Regions from separate parts of the Homo sapiens genome. Here region 2 is linked to region 1. Evidence: fine-mapped expression QTL. A gene starts in region 1. The other region holds a variant in brackets. All regions are shown on one strand. Distances are from middle to middle.

The links. PIP is the estimated chance that this variant, and not a neighbour inherited with it, causes the effect. A credible set is the group of variants that fine-mapping cannot tell apart.
Region 2: its variant is the best candidate, but not a certain one, in a credible set for the expression of NDUFA11 in spleen (GTEx, PIP 0.85).

The regions. Positions count from the first base shown.
Region 1 is chr19:5,900,875-5,906,241 of GRCh38, forward strand. It overlaps NDUFA11 (NADH:ubiquinone oxidoreductase subunit A11), which reads right to left and starts at 2,916. Exons shown (of 4, transcript NM_175614.5): 1 at 2,738-2,916. The coding sequence starts at 2,834. It overlaps VMAC (vimentin type intermediate filament associated coiled-coil protein), which reads left to right and starts at 3,998. Exons shown (of 2, transcript NM_001017921.4): 1 at 3,998-4,207. The coding sequence starts at 4,017. RefSeq lists enhancers at 2,348-2,994, 2,804-3,098, 3,672-3,791 and a silencer at 3,832-4,181.
Region 2 is chr19:5,875,545-5,880,911 of GRCh38, forward strand. No RefSeq gene overlaps it. Among named protein-coding and RNA genes, the nearest start is that of FUT5, 7.7 kb to the left of the region's middle. The variant C/T (reference allele first, on the strand shown) is at 2,803.

The DNA.
Region 1 (5,367 bases):
CACTCCAGCCTGGGTGACAGAATGAGACTCCGTCTCAAAAAAAAAAAAAAAAAGAAAAAAGAAAAAAGAAAAATTTAGGGAGAATGAATGTCACTCTCAAAGACCCCGGGGCACCCTTGGAGGGCTCACAGAAGCCACTGAGCACCCCTAAATCTAAATCTGATGCCATCAGCGATCTCCTGACATGGCAACTCTGTCAAAAGTTCTGACCTCCCCTTCTAAGACCCTCTGGGGAGCACCCCCGGTCTCAGAGGCCCTTCACTCAGCAGCACCACACCCCGAGACAAGCTGTCTCCTCCAAAGGCCTCCTGAGACCGCAGCCCACTCATTTTGTATTCACACATGAGGAATGCACACACTCTCTCACATGAACACCAACATACGCGTCTTTCTCAGTTTCAGATCCTATCCCCTGGGTGGCCCCCTTCAGCCCTTTCTCTTGAAGACCCTCGATAAGGACCTGATGGGAACATTCCTTGCTTCAGAGACCCCTAGGAGCAGGTCAGCCGACCTGGACTTGCAGCCCAGCTTCAAATGACCCTGGAGCAGTTAATATGCTTCTCCAACCTTCAGTCCCTACCTGTAAGAAATGGAGACACAATAACGTCTGTCTTACTATTAATAAATATGCAAAATATGGGAGTGATGATTAGGTCTGCCCTAATTCAAATGCCTCCCAATGGAGCCGCAACTTTGGCCGGGCCCTGTTTCACATATGCTGGAAATACAGAGTTGACCAAATTGATTCCTCAGCTTATAGACACACCAGGTTGTAAAGACTGTTTCTTTGGGTTTTTTTTTTTTTTTCTTTTTGAGACGGAGTCTTGCTCTGTCGCCCAGGCTGGAGTGCAGAGGCGCAATCTCGGCTCACTGCAAGCTCCGCCTCCCAGGTTCACGCCATTCTCCTTCCTCAGCCTCCTGAGTATCTGGGACTACAGGTGTCCACCACCACGCCCGGCTAATTTTTTTTGTATTTTTAGTAGAGACGGGTTTTCACCGTGTTAGCCAGGATGGTCTCGATCTCCTGACCTCGTGATCCACCTGCCTCGGCCTCCCAAAGTGCTGGGACTACAGGCGTGAGCCACCGCGCCCGGCTGGTTTTGTTTTGTTTTGTTTTTTGAGACAGCGTCTCACTCTGTCGCCCAGGCTGGAGTGCAGTGGCACAATCTCGGCTCACTGCAACCTCTGCCTCCTGGATTCACGCCATTCTCCTGCCTCAGCCTCCCAAGTAGCTGGGACTACAGGCACCCGCCATCATGCCTGGCTGATTTTTTGTATTTTTAGTAGAGACGGGGTTTCACCGTGTTAGCCAGGATGGTCTCAATCTCCTGACCTCATGATCCGCCTCCCAAAGTGCTGGGATTACAGGTGTGAGCCACCATGCCCGGCCTATTATTTTTATTTTTTGAGACAAGGTCTCGCTCTGTCGCCCAGGCTGGGGTGCAGTGGTGCAAACATAGCTCACTAGAGCCTTGAACTCCTGGTTTCAAGTGATCCTCTTGTCTCAGCCTCCTGAGTAGCTGGGACTACAGGTACGCACCATCATGCCCAGCTAATTGTTTTACTTTTTTGCAGAGATGGGGATCTTGCTATTTTGCCCAGGCTGGTCTGGAACTCCTGGCCTCAAGCGATCCTCCCACTTTGGCCTCCTGAGCGCCGGATTACAGGTGTGAGCCACCGCGCCTGGCCCAGTTTGTAAAGATTCTTCATCAGAGGGAAGAGGACTTCCAGCTCCATCTGGGACCTGATGAGTCCCAACCTGTGGCTGAGAATTAAAGGGCATGATGCCCATGAAACGCTCAGGCTGGAAGGGGCAAGACTCAGATTTACTCTATAAGAGAATGCCAGGGCCGGCCGGGCATGGTGGCTCACGCCTGTAATCCCAGCACTTTGGGAGCCCGAGATGGGCGGATGGCCTGAGACCAGGAGTTCCAGATCAGTCTGGCCAACACGGTGAAACCCCGTCTCTACTAAAAATACAAAATAATTAGCCAGGCGCGGTGGCGTGAGCCCGTAATCCCAGCTACTTGGGAGGCTGAGGCAAGGGAATTGCTCGAACCAGGGACGTGAAGGTTGCAGTGAGCCGAGATCTCGCCACTGCAGTCCAGCCCGGGCGACAGAGCAAGGCTCTGTCTCAAAAAAAAAAAAAAAAAAGGAGAATGCCAGGGCTTGCGGGTCCCCTTCATTCCCCTGCAAGGCTACCCTCATAGTAGCTCCTGATCCACCTCACCTAGGACCTCTCTGGCGGTCCCAGTAAAAGCTTCAGGTGTCCCTAACCACCCAGCACCCCCTGACCACAGAAAGACCTCATCCCACCCCAAAACTTTCTCAAACATCTGTACCGCCCTCAGATGCCCCAATCATGACTCATGATCCCCTCTAACAATCTCTACCCCGTTGGAAAGTCTCGTGGTCCCTTAGCTCCTTGGACCTGATAATAGCCCTGTCTCACTCCACAATTTCCCCGAGCCTGGCGATAGCTTGGGACCGCCTCAGATGACCCCAGGGACTAGCTTGTCGCATGTCACGACCTCCCAGTGCTCCCCAACCCTGCTGGACCCCCTACCAACATCCATTTCACACAAGATCCCCCCCTACGACCGCCCAAGACACCCCGATGACAACCACGTGCGTACCCGCGAGACTCCCAGACCCGTTCGATCCAAACAGCCCCCAGTAACCCCACGACCTCCCTGCGGCCTCGGCCCTCCACCCTCGGGGCCCGGCCGGCGCTCACCAGCGACGCTGGCAATACTGGTGGTGCTGTAGGCTTTGCGGTGGCAATCGGTGCCATCGGGGATATCCCAGTACTGACGAAAAACCTTCGGCGCCATAGCCCGCAATCTCGATCCCGCACCACGGACCCCGCCAGCTCGGGAAGCGCAAGGGCAGCCGCGGCTGGCTATCGCGAGACTTCTCGGGCTGCGCGCGCAACCTTTCGGGCTAGCGGGCCGGCAACAAGTGAGCAACTTTATTGATAGGCGCGGACATGGACATGGATCGCGCGCACGCGCCGGGGACCGGCCTGGAGGAAGAGAGTAGCACGTGCATCCCCAGGCCGATTCCTAGAGGGTGAAACTGAGGACGACTGCGATCAGTGCAGACAGATTTCGCTAGTCCCAGCTCAGGGAGTCCTAGGTTAGGGACTACTAGAGGCGGGGACTATCTACTAGGGGAGGGGCCGGGCTCAGACTGGGACGGGCGGGACTCCAGTTGATAGGAGCAAGACATGACGAAACAATGACTGGGGGGCGGGGCATGGCGGGGATGTGGCCACACCCAGTGTCAGAATCTGCATAGCGAGTGGTCATGCCCTGTGGTCAGTCACCAAGCTGGAGTCTGAGCAGCGTGCTACTGTTTTGGGCCGTGGACAGGATCAGGGGCGGGGATTATCGGGAAAGTGACCAATGACAATACGAGAAGCTCAGCGGGACGTGGCCTCTGTTCACCCCGCGGCTGTCCCACGCCCTAGGCCGGATGAAGTACACAGGCGCTTGACTTGGGGGCGTGGCTAGAATTGGAGGCATAACCTAAAAGGGACTTGACCAATCTGAGACTGTATAAGGGATGAAGGGGCGAGGCCGTGCCTGGATCTACCCCTGACAGGCCACAGGTTCGGGGGGCGTGGTCAGGCTTGCTGTTTCGCGGAGTCCGGGCCAATCCTGGTGTTAGCTTCCAAGTAGGGAGGGGACAGTATCGAAGGTGTGACCAATCTTGTTTCCAGAGCCTGAGTTGCGCGAGCCGCCAAAGGATGTGGCCAGCCTGGGGGCGTGGCTGTCAAGATCTTGTCCAATCCTAGAGTGAGCCCAAACTCAGGGGCGGAGTTTCATGATCCCGGAACCGGTGGTAGTGTTTGGGTTTGAGGAGAGCACGACCCAGCCCTCTGGGGTGGGGTCTAGCGGGGTCAGCGACCAATCGCGCCGAGGTCTAGTGGGGCGGGGCCCTCCCGGGGGCGGGGCCTGTGCCAGTTCCGGGCCGCCTGGGGGCGTGGCCGGGCCTGTACAGCAGCCTGGGCCATGTCGGCGCCGCCGGCCCTGCAGATCCGGGAGGCAAACGCACACCTGGCAGCCGTGCACCGGCGCGCAGCGGAGCTGGAGGCGCGGCTGGACGCGGCGGAGCGCACGGTGCACGCCCAAGCCGAGCGCCTGGCCCTCCACGACCAGCAGCTGCGCGCCGCCCTAGACGAACTGGGTCGCGCCAAGGACCGGTGAGGCCCGGGGCCGGCCAGGTGGACTTCACCGAGGCGGTAGGCGGAGGCAGAGCCGAGGCTGGAAAGCGAGGAAGGGCAGGGGGAACCGTGTGCACTTGTATAGACGCTAGACTGAGTATCGGATTGATAAAAACACCAAAAAACTCGAATTAGTAATCAGTATGTAAAGTTGCGAGAAGTGACACAGGTGTGGACCTCTAACTTCAAACAGGCCCACTTTCCCACAGGTGCTGAGCGACGCAGGGACCACAGACCGCCCAGCGTAGGCATTGGGAGCCATAGCAGGCTCTTCAGCAGGGGAGGAGGGGATCATATCAGCATTTTAACTTTTAAAATTTATTATTATTTTTTTGAGACGGAGTTTCGCTCTTGTCGCCTAGGCTGGAGTGCAGTGGCGTGATCTCAGCTCACTGCAACCTCCACCTCCCAGATTCAAGCGATTCTCCTGCCTCAGCCTCCCGTGTAGCTGGGATTACAGGCGCCCGCCACCACGCCCGGTCGATTTTTTGTATTTCTAGTAGAGACTGGTTTTCGTCACGTTGTGCAGGCTGGTCTCTAACTCCTGACCTCAGGTGATCCGCCCGCCTCAGCCTCCTAAAAGTGCTGGGATTACAGGGGTGAGCCACCGCACCCGGCCTAAATTTATTATTTTTGAGGCAGGGCCTCACTCCTATGCCCAGGCTGGAGTGCACCTCGACCTCCGGAGCTCAGGTGATTCTCCCACCTCAGTCTCCCAAGCAGCTGGGACTACAGGCGTCCACCACCACGCATGGCTTATTTTTTGTATTTTTTTGTAGAGACAGTTTTGCCCTGTTGCCCAGTTTGGTCTTGAACTCCTGGGCTCAAGCAGTCCTCCCACCTCACCCTTCCAAAGTGCTGGGATTACAGGCTAAGCCACCATGCCTATCTATTATTTTTGAGAGAGGGTCTTGCTCTGTTGCCCAGGCTGGAATGCAGTGGTGCGATCTCGACTCACTGCAGTCTCACCCTCCCTCCTCAGCCTCTCAAGTAGCTGGGATTACAGGCGTGCGACAGCACACCTGGCTGATTTAAAAAAAAAAATCCTTTAGAAATGGGGTCAGACTATGTTGCCTAGGCTGGCCTTGAACTCCTGGGCTCAAGTGATCCTCCTGCCTCAGCCTCCCGAAGTGCTGGGA
Region 2 (5,367 bases), 25 kb before region 1:
ACTCTGTCACTCCCAAGCTGGGTACAGAGGTGACAGAGCCCACATTTCACCTTCAGGTATCACGACTTCCCTGTTCTAGAAATAATTTCCAGGAGGCCGTTTCATGCTGCCCCAGACTTTCACCGTCTCAGTTCCCAGCCAGGCCCAGGCCAGTGGGGAGGATCGACTGGCCAGGGCTGGGCCAGGGACTGCGGTCTCCCAGGCAAGCCATTTCCAGAAGGGATGACCTGAGTCTGTTCTCTGTTCATGTCCTCGCTGGGGGCATTGTCTGTGACTGATTAAAACATAACTCATAGAAGTTGGGTATAGTGGCTCACACTCATAATTCCAGCACTTTGGGAGGCCGAGGTGAGCAGATCACCTGAGGTCAGGAGTTTGAGACCAGCCTGGCCAACATGGTGAAACCTCGTCTCTGCTAAAAATACAAAAATTAGCCGGGTGTGGTGGTGCACACCTGTAATCCCAGCTACTCTGGAAGCTGAGGCGGGAGAATCACTTGAACCCGGGAGGCAGAGGTTTGCAGTGAGCTAAGATTGGGTCACTGCACTCCAGCCTGGGTGACAGAGTGAGACTCCATCACAAAAAGAAAAAAACCCAAAAAAACATAACTCATGGGGCTCTCAGTCTTGGTGTGACTTTGTCCTGGAGCCCCAGCCAAGCCTGGACCGGCAACGCTTCCATCCCACACAGCTGTCCTGTGGATGTGAAGACAGGTCCTGAGAGAGGGCGCTCACTACTCAAGTCACTGGGAGTCTCAATCGCACCAGGCTGTCTTCAGTTGGACAGCTGTACTCTCTGCCCCCTGCCTCCTGCTTAATTCCCAGTCATCCTTCAGGGCTCGGTGAAAACAGCTCCTCCAGGGAGCCTCCCCAGATAGGGGCTCTCTTGCCCTCCCAGCCAGATCATCCTTTCTACTGGCTCCTCCAACCACCCGTGCCCCTGATTCTAGGCTCAGGCCGCGAGGATCTCTTCCCTCTGGCTCAGATGAGCTGAGACTTGCTTGGGGGGTGCGGTGAGGCCATCTGTGCCCCTCGTTGGGGTCCTGGTCTTCATTGGACACCCCAGCTCCTCCCTCAGCCTGGGCTGGGTGGGTGATAAAGCTGTCAGCCTGCTGGAAATTTCTCTCCCCTTGGGGCCTAAGGGCTGGGAGCCAAGGGCAGCTGCCGCTCAGGAGGAGGGAGAAGGCCCCATAGGCTGGGCTGGGTGCACCATGAACCACATGTGAGATCTGGGGCACATGGGGAGACAATGGGGGGTTGAGGGCAGTGCTGGTGTTCCAGAGGGGGCAGGCCAGGGTCCCCCAATGTTGGCCAGGTGGCTGGTCTTCTGCCCTTGTGGAACCCAAGGAGGGTTTCCATGTCCCTCTAAGCCTCAGAGGAAATTCCAGAGGGAGAGAAAGAGAAGTTGGGAAAGGGAGCTGTTCACTCTGACATCAGCTCAGGGAGAGGCGGAGACCACGGGGGCTCCAGGGGCATCAGGGGACAGAGCAGCCTGTCCCCACACCTCTTACCCCCTGGGGACTGGGCCTGCCCCAGCCTGTTAGGAAGCCCTGGCCTGGCCTGCCGAGGGCCCCATCCCCCTCCCAGGACCCCTGGCTTGCAGCCAGGTGGTGGGGAGAGGGGCCCAGGTGGGTGGTGTGTGTGGCAGGTGAGTGATGGGCCCAGCAAGGCTGGCTCAGGCCCGGAGTCACCAGGGGGCTTAGCAGAGACTCTTCAGGCCCCCCACACCTTCCCCACCCTATGCCCCTCCACCCTTCTACCTGGGCCTGGGGGAGCCATCACAGGCACCTCTGCATGTCCACTGTACAGATGGGGAAACCGAGGCTTAGATAGCACCTGGGAGTCACCACCACCCTGCACCACCAGGTCCCCCATGGCATTCTCCAGAGAGCAGCAATTTCCCCCAACACTAGAATGTTCCAGATATCCTCACTTACAGTCAGAAGCCACCTGCAGCCCCTAAGTGGTGGAGCAGGGCTCTATGGGGGACTTGCCTGACTTTGGAGTTCTTGACCCTGAGATCTTCAGAAAACCGACTTTCACCTCTGGCAGCTGTGTGGCCTTGGATGAGTTCCTCAACTTCTCTGGGCGTCAGCCACCTCCTCTGTAGAGTGGAGCCACTGCCGGCACCTTCTTCAGGAGGTTGAGGTGACCTGGAAGGTCACGCTGATCCTCCCACCGCCCCACAGGGTCTCTGCGTACCCCCTCTACAGGCTGGAATGTTTGGCCTGGGTCCCTGGCCCTCTGCGGGCCTCGGTTTCCCCTCCTGTAATACTTGTAAGAACTCAGCCTCTCCCTGCTCATCTACATGGTGCTGGGGCCACTAAACAGACAGGGAGTGCGGGAAGCCCCAGGTGACGGTGACAGAAACCTGGCACCCCCTAGAAACCTGACCCTGGCCTCACCCCCGGGTCCCCTGGCACCAACACGCTGAGGTCTGCCCACCCCTGGTACCCAGGCCCAGCTGGGTTCATGCAGCTTAAATTTCAGCCTGTGGTGGGTGAAGAGGCGGGGGCTGGACACGCTTCATTTTCCAATTTCTAGAAATAAAAGCTGTGGGGCCATCTATTGTGGAGTGGAAATAAAGCCCATTGCAAAACCTTGTGTGTGAAAAAATAACAATAGCATTTACCTCCCTGCCCGGGGAGAGAAAATTCCAGGGAATACATGGGGCCGGGGAACAAAGAGGCCTTTCTCTCATTCTGGAAAGGTTTTGTGAAGTGTGCGAGTGGCAATTTTAGAATCAGAAAAGCTAATGGAGGTATTTTCTTTCTTTCTTTCTTTCTGAGACTGAGTCTTGCTC[C/T]ATCGCCCAGGCTGGAGTGCTGTGGTGCGATCTCGACTCACTGCAACCTCCCACTACCGAGTTCAAGCAATTCTCATGCCTCAGCCTCCCGAGTAGCTGGGATTACAGATGCCCGCCACCACGCCCAGCTAAATTTTGTATTTTAAGTAGAGATGGTGTTTCACTATGTTGGCCAGGCTGTTCTCGAACTCCGGACCTCAAGTGATCTGCCCGCCTCGGCATCCCAAAGTGCTGAGATTACAGGCGTGAGCCACCACACCCGGCCCAATGAAGGTATTTCCGAGAACGAAAACGGTTAGGAGGTGGTCTGTTGGAACCTGGAGGTGAAAAGTATAATTTTCTTTCCTTTTTTTTTTTTTTTCCAGACGGAGTCTCCCTCTGTCGCCTGCCCAGGCTGGAGTGCAGTGGCACAATCTCAGCCCACTGCAACCTCCGCCTCCTGGGTTCAAGTGATTCTCCTGTCTCAGCCTCCCGAGTAGCTGGAATTACAGGCACGCGCCACGACGCCTAGCTAATTTTTTGTATTTTTAGTAGAGATGGGGTTTCACCGTGTTAGCCAGGATGGTCTCAATCTCCTGACCTCGTGATCAGTCTGTCTTGGCCTCCCAAAGTGCTAGGATTACAGCAGTGAGCCACCGCACCGGGCCAAAAAGCATAATTTTCTTGGTTTGTTTTCAGGCGATGTTTTCAAGGTTTCTAAGCACCTGTCTCTCCATCGGCAAAAATTACAGCCAGTAGAGCCAGCGACCTGGGCACCTGGGCCAGCCCTGCAGGGAGTGTATGGAGATGCCACTCACCTTGGGAAGATGCACCAGGAGTTACGGTCCACTCTGTCCCTGTTGGCGTTCTCTGAAGAGTAGAAATTTTCCCCTACCCAGACTCTGAGAATGTTCCAAAGACCTCAATTTATATTTGGTATCCACCTGCAGCCACTCAGTCCCTCAGCCCAGCTGTAGCCTCTGGTCACTCCCCCTCCCAGAGGGAGACAGTGTTGAGATTTGACTTCAGAACAAGGGCAGAGCCTTACAAAAAATGAGCTGGGCATGGTGGTGGGTGCCTGTAATCCCAGCTACTCATGAGGATGAGGCAGGAGAATCACCTGAACCCAGGAGGTGGAGGTTGGAGGTGGAGGTTGCAGTAAGATGAGATCACGCCACTGCTCTCCAGTCTGGGCGACGGAGCAAAACTCTGTCTCACTCACTCACTCAATAAATAAATAAATAAGCGAAAATAAATAGGCCAGGCACAGGGGCTCACGCCTGTAATCCCAGCACTTTGGGAGGCTGAGGTGGGTGGATCACGAGGTAAGGAGTTCGAGACCAGTCTGGCCAACACAGTGAAACCCTGTCTCTACTCAAAATAGAAAAATTAGCTGGGCGGGATGGTGAGCGCCTGTAATCCCAGCTACTTGGGAGGCTGAGGCTCAAGAATTGCACGAACCTGGGAGGCGGAGGTTGCAGTGAGCTGAGATCGCGCCACTGCACTACAGCCTGGGCAAGAGACTCCGTCTCAAAAAAAAAAAAAAAAAAAAAATTGGTGAGGCGCGGTGGCTCAGGCCTATAATCCCAGCACTTTGGGAGGTCAAGGTGGGGGGACTTCCTGAAGTTGGGAGTTTGAGACCAGTTGAGGTCTTTGGAACATTCTGAGACTCCGGGTAGGGAAAAATTTCTATCCTCCAGGGTACTCCAACAGGGAGGGAGAGGACTGCAAATTCTGGCGCATCTCTTCCCAAGGTGGCGTCTCCATACACTCCCCGCAACATGGAGAAACCCTCTCTCTACTAAAAATACAAAATTAGCCGGGCGTGGTGGTGCACGCCTGTAATCCCAGCTACTCAGGAGACTGAGGCAGGAGAATCACTTGAACCCGGGAGGTGGAGGTTGTGGTGAGCCGAGATTGTGCCATTGCACTCCAGCCTGGGCAACAAGAGTGAAATTCCGTCTCAAAAAAAAAAAAGATCTTGTTTATTTCTTGGTTTGTCAGTGTCTTCCCCAGATTGGGCGGCTCATGGGGCAGGGCTTGGGTCCCCAGTATGACCTGGCACCCAGTAGGCACTCAGTAAACAGGTGCTGAATAAATGTCCTTGTCTGTGATGGAAGCTTGAACTCCCACTTGGAGAATTATAAACGAAGACTGAAGATCTTTGGACTCTGGGGCAGGAGTGACCCTCCCCCTGCCCCTTCCCCACCCCCCACCGACCACCCCAGAGATTACAGCCTGCCTCAGGGGAATCTGCAGGTGAGGTAGTCCTCACCCCCAGTGACACAGGGCAGGACCTCGCAGGGCTGGAGATGGAGGAGGCCGGGTGGCAGGCACAGGCAGGCAAAGAATGCTGCCGCAGACGAGAATGAATAAACAGGCTCCTTGGATGTCAGAGGCTGGGGGTGGGGGGACACTTTGAACCTCACGCCTGGCTGGGGATGTTTGGACAAGGCAGGCGGCCAGCGGGTGTCATCAGGGCTAAAATTAACCTCCACTTCCCGCTCAGCCCCTCCCCCTGGGCCAGGAGGGAGGCTGGGGCCCCGGCCATCACTTAAGTGAGCGCTGTATGCCGGACAAAGCTCC